3 linked regions of the Homo sapiens genome follow. The protein of the gene in region 1 interacts with the protein of each later gene in a pairwise test. Each region holds a gene or a part of one and is shown on either strand. Other genes may lie near its edges.

The links.
Region 2: the proteins of PARVG (region 1) and ANTKMT interact in binary tests that used the Homo sapiens proteins (3 or more experiments, as listed by UniProt).
Region 3: the proteins of PARVG (region 1) and ZNF677 interact in a two-hybrid assay, tested with the Homo sapiens proteins (one large-scale study listed by BioGRID and IntAct).

The regions. Positions count from the first base shown.
Region 1 is NC_000022.11:44,194,346-44,198,000, reverse strand, and holds part of PARVG (gamma-parvin), read right to left. Parts: intron 1,847-3,655; coding exon 1,788-1,846; intron 1,655-1,787; coding exon 1,586-1,654; intron 1-1,585. UniProt on the Homo sapiens protein: Plays a role with ILK in promoting the cell adhesion and spreading of leukocytes.
Region 2 is NC_000016.10:719,604-723,203, forward strand, and holds ANTKMT (adenine nucleotide translocase lysine N-methyltransferase), read left to right. Parts: upstream 1-1,542; 5' UTR 1,543-1,671; coding exon 1,672-1,833; intron 1,834-1,994; coding exon 1,995-2,099; intron 2,100-2,197; coding exon 2,198-2,338; intron 2,339-2,480; coding exon 2,481-2,531; intron 2,532-2,705; coding exon 2,706-2,954; 3' UTR 2,955-2,987; downstream 2,988-3,600. Other genes in the region: CCDC78 (coiled-coil domain-containing protein 78), read right to left, coding at 3,075-3,186, 3,319-3,558.
Region 3 is NC_000019.10:53,237,825-53,240,300, forward strand, and holds part of ZNF677 (zinc finger protein 677), read right to left. Parts: exon of another isoform or gene 1,370-2,476; coding exon of another isoform or gene 1,338-1,369; exon of another isoform or gene 772-1,337; intron 734-771; coding exon 1-733. UniProt on the Homo sapiens protein: May be involved in transcriptional regulation.

The sequences.
Region 1 (3,655 bases):
GCAAGGGACTTCCTTACCCCATTTTATTGAACAGTCTCTAAATACCACCTTTGCACATGCCATGAGTCTCTGAAACCCATTATTTTACCAAGGGAGAGATACAGATAGAACAGGTAGAATGTAAATCTCAGAAATCATCCTGTTTATACCCACATAAAATATAATAAAACTACAAATCTCTCACTTATTTCATGCCGGCAGCGTGCCAGGTAATATACCAAACACGTGGGGCTCACCAGCTCATGTATCACTCACAATTCTACCAAGTTGCTATCTTGTACCCACTTTATAAGAAGAAGAGCCTGAGGTTCAGAGAAGTCCAGTAACTCACCCAAGGTCACACAGCAAATGTGGAGGGTTCTCAGCAGACCCCAGGGCCCATAAGTGGTGGAGGCAGGAGGGAAATGTGTGTCTGTCTGGCTACAGAGCGTGATACTTCCACCCTGCCATGCTGCCACACCATATCACACACAAACTTCTCACGTGGCCACCATGTGAGGTGGTTATAAGCACTAACTCTGGCCCCAGCTGCCTGGGTTCAAATCCCAGGTCCACTACTTATCACTGTGTGACTTTAGACAAGTTAATTAACCTCTCTGTGCCTTAACATCCTCCTCTGTAAGTGGGGTAGTACAGTTCCCACTTCAGAGGATTATGGAGAGGATTCAATGAGTTAACATGGAAAGCATTTTGCCCTGGGACTGGCACATAGTGAGGGCTTTATTGGTTTTAGCTACTAGGCATGGGAGTACATTAACCCCTCCCTCCCCAGCCAATGCCCATCCAGAGTCTCTCTGAGAGGTCAGCAGCTCTGGCTACGATCTTCATGAGCCAACTGGTCCATCTGGGACCAGACTCCCTCCCCACCCCAGACCCCAGCACCCAGCAGAACCCAGGTGGCCAGATGCCTACGTCATGTCCCATTCAGGCCACTGGCATCCAGCAGACTCCATGCCCACTCTGCAGGCCCCGGGCTGGCAGCCGGTCTGCTACTGTGCACCCCCTGCTCCCCTGCAGTGTGGGAAGCCTACAGGGACACAGCTTCACTGTGGAAAGCCACAGCCCATGGTGGGTGCTGACCCCCTGAGATTCTGCTCCTGCTCCTGGGAAAATTCGACTTAAGTCAGCCGGGGGAGGGGCTGGGCTCCTCAGGGTGCTTGTGAGAGACATGGAGCCTGCAGACGGCTGGGCTGCGCTGTCACCTACGCCTGGCACATGGGACAAATCTAATAAATTCTGTTTGGGCGAACACAACCACGCAGGGAAGACTCATATGCTTCAAGTCTTGGCATCAGCTAGTCTGAGATTAATTATAAAATAAAATTATAACAATGAGAAGCAGTGACAGCCGAGGTGACTCCAGCTTTGTGAAGTGTTCCCACACCTCCACCCCCGGGATCCCACCATGTCCCTGGTGACCACTGCTGCCTGCCAGCAACAGTCCCACCGGGGAGGGGGACCCTAAGGCTCCAAGAGGTGATGCAACCCCCACCACACAGCAGGTTCCCAGGGCCTGCAGAACCCTCTTTCCTTCCTACGGCCAGTGGCCCTGCCCTGCCTGGGGACGCCGCAGCTCAGTCCCTACCTGGGTGTCCAGATTCTGCACAGACAGGCCCAGGCGGTCCAGCTTCTGGTTGACAAAGTTCACGATGGCCTAACCAGGGAAGAACAAGGGCCTAGCACACAGCAGGTGTGATGGGAGGACCCGTGATTCCCTCCTACAGCGCAGGTGGGCAGTGGGTGGGGTGGGCAGCCTGAGAGCCGCTGAGAGCTTTGATCTCTCCTACCTCTTTCACTGCGTTCACTTTCTCCGGAGCCAGCTTAAATAATTCATCAAAGACGTCCTCTGCAGACACAGATCCAATAAACACCTCATTACGATGCTATTATCTTTGTGCCAAACAGGGAATTTTTTTTTTCACAAAAGTTTCTTAGAATAACCAGTCCAGAGGGAGCTGTCGTTTTACATCATGGTTCTCAAATAAAACAGACCTGGATTTGAGTCACTGCTCTCCTGGCCGTGTGGCCCCAGGGGAGTCACCGTCTCTCTCTGTGCCTCCCTAGCTGGGGTTGTTGCAGAGATGGAATTCCATAGCAGATAACACACATGGCCCCATGGCACAGTGACTGGGCACACAGTAGGACTTCATAAACAGCCACTCTTCCTGCAGCTGACACCTGTTACTACATCTGCACAGCTGCATCCCTTTATCTGCCAGCTGGCACTCCCTCCTCCCAGGGCCCTACTCCACTCCCCAGGGCCACGGGAGCTGCCACAGGTGGGTGATCAGGGTCCATGAGTCTCCTCCCCTTGGTTTTAAATTGGCTGAGTGAGGACTGCTCCCTGCTGCCTCCCCCCGCCCCCAAGAGTGTCTGAACCTGCTGCCTGCAAAAGGCCAGCTCTTCAGCAACTCAGTCACTCCCTTGGGGTCTGGGAACAGCGGCTCAGGCCCTGGGGTCCAGCCTCGGGTGCCCATGTCCTCAGGCTAATGCCCTTTGTGCACTAGCTGGATTCCTGCTATTTGCAGCTAACATACCTCCCATGGGGACACTGGTCCTTGGGCACCAAATACACAGACTGGCCTGAGTTTGCTGTGGCTTCTGCCACTCAGCAGCTGTGTGACTCTAAGCAAGTCACAGCACCTCTCTCTGTTTCAGTTCCCTTGTTAGTGAAGGGGGAAAAGTAGCACCAAATAGCATCATGCACGTTAAAATGCCCCTGCTCTGTGTCCTTTCTTCACCCTCTGACACCCACTTCTCATGCTGCCCCCTGCCCAAAATACTGCTCCCTGGGCAACCCCTCATGTCCTCAGGCTGCCCCTCCTGCTACATACACAGATCCTCAGCCAGCCCTCCTTGCCCCTCCTTTCTCCTTTCTCCCCAAACTCCGCCTTCCTCAGCCCCCATTCTCAGAAGCTCCTGGCAGGTTATTATCTCTACCTCTGCAGGGAAGGTGCCCCTCATAGCATCCCTGCCCACATAGCTATGTGTCTAAGTGGGGAGGGTATAGGGAGGAAAAATAGTGTTAGGATGGATGGATATGGGTGAATACATAGGTGGTTGGATGGGTAGATAGATGAATGGGTGGATGAATAGGTGGGTAGGTGGATAGATGAATGGATGGATGGATAGGTGTGTGGGTGGATGGATGGATAGATGGATGGATGGATGGATGAATATATGGATAGGTGGGTGTATGGATGGATGGATGGATAGATGATGGATGGGTAGGCGGATGGATGAATGGAAGCATGAATGGATGGATGGAGGGATGGATGGATGGATGAATGCGTGGATAGGTGGGTGGGTGGATGGATGGATGGATGGATGGATAGGTTGATGGATGGATAGGTGGATGGATGGATGGACAGGTGATGGATGGGTAGGTGGATGGATGAATGGAGGCATGAATGGATGGATGGAGGGATGGATAAATGGATGGGTGGGTGGATAGATGAATGGAAGAATGGGTTGATGGATGCATGGGTGTATGAATGGATGGATGGATAGGTGGGTGGGTGGATAAGTGGGTAAGTAGATAGATGAATGGAAGAAAGGATGGATCAATAGATGGATAAATAGATTAATGGATGGGAAGGGGAAGAGCTGGCCAGACCAGTGACAAAGGAATGGATGCATGAAAGAAGTAACAACT
Region 2 (3,600 bases), on another chromosome or scaffold:
CCTGGCCAACATGGTGAAACCGTCTCTAATAAAACACAAAAAATTAGCCAGACATGGTGGCATGCATCTGTAATCCCAGCTACTCAAAAGGCTGAGGCAGAGGAATCACTTGAACCTGGAAGGCAGAGGTTGCAGTGAGCCAAGACTGCGCCACTGCACTCCAACCTGGGCGAAAGAGCGAGACTCAAGTCTCAAAAAAAAAAAAAAAAAAAAAAAAAAAAAAAAAAGAAGAGTGGAGAGTGCACGCTAGAGTCCAATTAGGTGCATTCATCCAGTAAGCCTCCTAGGTAACTGCTCTAGGTGCAGGGAATAATGCAGGCAGCAGGACAGGAATGGGCGCTGTCAGCTCCCCCTAGAGCTCAGTGTACATACACCCTTCCTTTCCTGGGAGGGCCGTTCCAGGCCCCCAGGAGACAGGACACGCTGAGCTGGGTGGGGCTGGGGCCAACGTGGGCAGGCCTGTGAGACTCTGCACTTGGGAGCTGGGGGCTGTGGTCTGCGGCATACCCATGTCTGGAAGCAGCCTCTGTCCCTGCAGGGGCTCTAGACCCCAGCCACGGATGGCTAAGGAGGAGCTAGGCCAGGGCACGCATAGACAACCCCCGACATTCACGGGTGTTCAGCCCTACCCTGGGTGTGGAGGTCGTGGCCCAGCTGCCTGACCCAGAGCTCGGCTCTTCCACTTGCGCTTCCCACCCCCAGCTTCACAAGGTCACCTCCAGGAACTCAGTCTTTTTGTGTGTTGTTTTCTGGAGAAGGAAGGTGATCTCCCCACTCCCGGGGCTGTCTGCCTTCCCTGTAGCTGGCAGGTGCCAGAGGCCCCCGCCTGTGACATCCGGCTTTCCTCCCACCACACTCGCCTGAGAGCCAGCATCTGTCTTCTTGGGCCTGCTCAAGCTCTCCTCCGTGTCAGCCCCTCCTCCATGCCCTTCTCCCTCAGACCCCACCCCCCATCCCTTCACCGCCCACTGGGGCTCATCGCTCAGGCTGTAGGAGGGAAATGGAAGGATGTCCTCCCGGGCTCTGGCTGGCGCTGGGTGTCCGAGTCAGCGGAGCGCCCCCAGCAGTCTCCCCGAGGCAGAGTCATGGGGGTGCTGGCGCCTGGACGCTGTCTCATCCCGGGGAGCCGCTTTCCCACCGGCTCCCTGGGCTCCAGCCGCCCCACGCGAGCCCCCGGCTGGTTCTGGGGCCAGGACCGCCCCTCTCCAAGGCAGACTTCCCTTCATTCCACGACAAAGACGCGCAGCCCCGTTTCCCTGGGGCTCTAGCCCGTGAGATCGCCGGGTGTATCCCGACTCCCGCCGGCACGTGCGCTCCCCCAGGGCAGGGCCTGCCTGTCCCCTTCCGCGGGTCGCCAGCAGCCAGCACAGGCCGCAAACGGCGGTCCGCAGAGCGGACCAACGGAGCCGACCCTCGCAGGCTTGGAGCCGGACGCGGCGGGGCAGAGCCCCCGAGGCTGCAGCTCGCCGGAACCCGCGGGAGGGCAGCCGGGCTGGGCGGAGCGCACAGCGCCACGGACCGACCGCGCAGGCTCTGCCGGCCACTTCCGGTGTCGCGCGGCGGCTCCCGGCAGGAGGCAGAGGGCACACCGCCAGCCCCAGGCCAGGCTGCGAGGGCCGCGGACCCGAGCCGGGAAGGACCTTGGGCGGACGAGCCGCGCGTCCCGCAGCCATGGAGCAGGACGACCCGGTCGAGGCGCTGACGGAGCTGCGCGAGCGGCGGCTGGGCGCGCTGGAGCTGCTGCAGGCGGCGGCCGGCTCGGGCTTGGCAGCCTACGCGGTGTGGGCGCTGCTGCTCCAGCCCGGCTTCCGGCGCGTGCCGCTGCGGCTGCAGGTGCGGGGCGGGGCCAGGCCGGGCAGGGGAGCTCGGCTGCCGCTCAGGGTCTCAAGGTCTGGGCGTGGCCGGGGTGAGCTCCGCCCCGCCGTGTGGTAGTTCGGGCCGGGCTGCGGGCGGGGCGGGAGCGGCCAGTGGACTCTCGCCGCCACCCGGTCCAGGTGCCCTACGTCGGCGCGAGCGCGCGGCAGGTGGAGCACGTGTTGTCGCTGCTGCGAGGACGCCCCGGAAAAACGGTGGATCTGGGCTCTGGCGACGGCAGGATCGTAAGTGCCTGCGTCTGGGTCTTCGCCGCCCCACACCGCCCACCTGCTGGCGGGCGCCCCTGCCCACATCCTGGTTCCCACACTCTCGGTGCCCACAGGTGCTGGCGGCCCACAGGTGCGGCCTCCGCCCGGCCGTGGGCTACGAGCTGAACCCCTGGCTGGTGGCGCTGGCGCGGCTGCACGCCTGGAGGGCCGGCTGTGCCGGCAGCGTCTGCTATCGCCGCAAGGATCTCTGGAAGGTAACCTGGGGATCCCTGGCCACCCGCTGACAGCCCAAGGTGCGGCTGACACCTGCGAGGGCTGGGGGCCGGGACTCGGAAGCTGCGATGACCCGGTGCCCACCAGGCCTCTCCCCGGCCGGGGCGACTTCTCTTCCGGCAGGTGAGCCTGAGGGACTGCCGCAACGTGTCTGTGTTCCTGGCCCCTAGCGTGGTAGGTGCGGGGTTGCCAGCCCCGCTGGGAAGCCCCAGCCACACCCCAGGGTGTTTGCTGCTCTGAGGCCTGGGCCTGCCTGGTGGGTGCTAGGCTTGGGGCTAGGGGGGTGAGCGCGGCTGTTTTCTACCGGCCCCGCCCCCGCCCCCTCTACTCTGCTGTTCTCTCCCTCAGCTCCCGCTGCTGGAGGACAAGCTGCGGACAGAGCTGCCTGCTGGGGCCCGCGTGGTGTCTGGGCGCTTCCCACTCCCCACCTGGCAGCCTGTGACCGCGGTTGGCGAGGGCCTGGACCGAGTATGGGCTTATGATGTTCCTGAGGGTGGGCAGGCTGGGGAGGCCGCCTCCTCGCGGATACCCATCCAGGCTGCCCCCGGACCTAGTTCTGCCCCCATCCCGGGGGGCCTTATTTCTCAGGCCAGCTGAGTATTAGACACGATAAAGACTCTGTGGGTTCTATCCTGACTCATGTTTTATGGGGGGCTGGGTGGGAGGGTTCTGTGCTGGCTGAGGAGCTCTGCTCTGCTCTGCTCCTTGGGAGACGGCCTAGTGGCTGCCGGTCCTTGGATGCTGGGGCTTGGCTGGAGGCACAGCCCCCACTTTCCAGGGGTCCCCTGCACCTGCCAGCTTCCTCAGCCTCAGGATTTCGTGCTTGTACCTGCTCAGAGGAACCATGCTTAAGTGACTTGCCCAGCTGTGGACAGGTCTGCTTTTAGCGCCTGAGGCAGCCATCATCCTTCATTCCAACCAGACCAGGGCCCTGGGGTCACACCCAGCTCCCTCTGCCCACCTGCCCAGGTGCTGGTCCACGTACTCCTGTAGCTCAGAAAGTTGCTCTTCAGCCATCGTGGCCCGGACCAGCAGCTGTGCCCGCTCCCGTTCCAGCTCTGCCTGGCATGGGGATGTAAGCCATGAGCTGGGGCATGGCGTGAGGATGGGCCTGGGCCAGCCCTTGCCTCCTACCTGGGTGCTGCGGGAGAAGTCCCGGAGCTTCTGGTGGATCTGGGCCCAGGATGCAGCGTCCAGGCCCCTGTGAGGGGAGAGGAAAGGAGGAGTGGTTTTGAGAGCTGGC
Region 3 (2,476 bases), on another chromosome or scaffold:
TTAAAGGCTTTGCCACACTCGTTACATTTGTAAGGTCTCTGTCCAGAGTGAATTCTCTGATGATTAGTGAGGTTCGAACTTTTGCTAAAAGCCTTTCCACAGTCATTACACTTGTATGATTTTTCTCTAATGTGTGTTCTCCCATACTGTGTATGTAATAAAGGGTATTTCAAAATCTTCCTATATTTATTACAAATGTTTTTGACACAAGGAGGAAGTGGTGAAACTGAGGAACTATTGATAGACTTCTCAACTGGATTACATTCATACATTTTCTCCCCAGTTTGAAATCTCTGTAGTTCAGCCAGCTGTGCCTGTAAGCTTAATCCAATTTTATTTTCAAAACACTTCACGTATTTGTTTCCGGCATACCTTATGTTATTTTTCAGTTTTAACAAATTCCTTATAAATGGCTTGTCATGGATGAAATACTGGTGTGCACTATCTCTTATAGAAACACTCTGCTTTAAAGAGAAATGTATTGAGGATTTATTATGTTGTTGATCTTTTCTGTGAGTGAGATTTTTGTTACAGGTCAAAGGCATTCCTTTGTAATTTTTTACATCATAGTCCCACAGGCTGTCAAACTTAGGCATATTTTCCCAGACTTCCTTGAGGTCAAAATTGTTGATGCCATGGCTTTCCTTTCTTTCTAATATCACCAGATGGTATAATTCCTCTTTATTATTTTCCTTTGGTGATAATCCCTTGCTTGTAAATCCAACAGAAATATCTGAAAGATATTAAAAAAACCACAGGCTTTCCATCAAATAGAGTTGCAAGGTAAATATTTTATTAAAATACATATTACAAGAAAGCTAAGATTTACAATGAACAGAGTTATGAAGCTTCTCAACTGTCTTTAAACGTTTAACAACACAAAGGGACTAGCTGTCCTCAATAAAGTAACACAGTAACAAAACATGTAACAAATTATTTTAAGCACAGTTTAAAACACCCTATAGCTAAAACACTCATACTATGTAAATCCACATAAACTCTGAAAGAAGAGGTATTTTTCCACCACCACTCCAAGGAACACGTAAATTGGCATAGCTATATGGTAGTCTCATATTTGAAGATAAACAAATAGTAATGCATTATTTAGTACATAATTATTACACACAAAAGGTAAGGCACAGCTCAAGCTTATCTAATAAAAAATATTTAAAAATGACAATTCATAATTGCAAACAAAACACTGAAAGAAAAAATTCGGAAGAATTTAATAAAATTTTGAATATTTACAAATTGCAAATGTGAGTACTTGTTATAAAACTACTTACACCCATGTAGAATGTGCATTTTGCAGCATTAACAATTTGTGCATGGTGGTTCTATTGCATAATATATACTGAAAAACCATCATCTGTAAATCATTACAAAAATAAATAAAACACTTTAGTAACCTGTGAAAATCTAACAGGCAAGTTAATGAACAACCACAATTACACAAAATTGTCAGTGAAATTCTAAAGAATTACTGCTTATGAACTACAGAAAAAACAGAAGGGACACACAATAGGAAAAATAATATGTTGAGAATCACTAAATTTTGAAATATCAGCTTCAGGTAAATGCACATTACTATAAAGATGAAGAATTAGGAGGGGAGTCTGAAATAATTTCATGCCTGCAGTTATATGACAGCAGTATATAGAGAAACTCCCTGACTAGGAAATGTCATCTAGTTTTCCAGTTCTATGGCCAAAAAATACATATAATGAAAGCTGTGTGCTTTAACATTTTATTATGTAGAGTCAGAGAAATGTTGATATGAAAAAAAAAATTACAAAAAAGAAAATATGTAAGATATAATGAAGGCAAAGGTCAATCTCATAAGAAACATGACAGACACTTGACATATCTTATTCATAAAGGTAACTTTTCAAAGCATACTAAATGCTATGCAAGTTACTAAGGTCTCTAACAGCACTAATTGATGTAAATCCTCTTGAGGTAAATTATCGCACCTTTTCATACCAAAACAAAGGGCTGAAGAGGTTTACATATCTATCCCTAACTCACAGAGAAAGCACATCTGAAAGCCAGAATCTGAACCTGTGTGTGCGGGCTAAGATGCCATGTTCACAGCATTAAGCACCACTGGCCACCCAGGGCAGCACGGATTATAAATCACAGCAAATACGAGGAGTGTAGGAAGAAATGTTTCAAGGCAGATTATGGGACCTGAGCTGTGTCACCTATAGTGTGACAGCACCACTGCTCTCAGATAGCATTTAAGTCACCTTATCTTGCACAAGTTGTTTAGACAGTGACCAGATCATGTTGCTGTCCTGAGTAAGCTGTCCTGTGTATAAGCAGGAGTCATTCTTTACACAGTGTGTGCAATGAAGGGATGTTATTCTGTGCTAAAAAGAAATGAGCTGTCAAGCTATAAAAAGACATGGAAGAAATTTATTTTATTTATCTATTTTTTGAGATGGAGTCTCGCTCTGTTGCCCAGGCTGGAGTG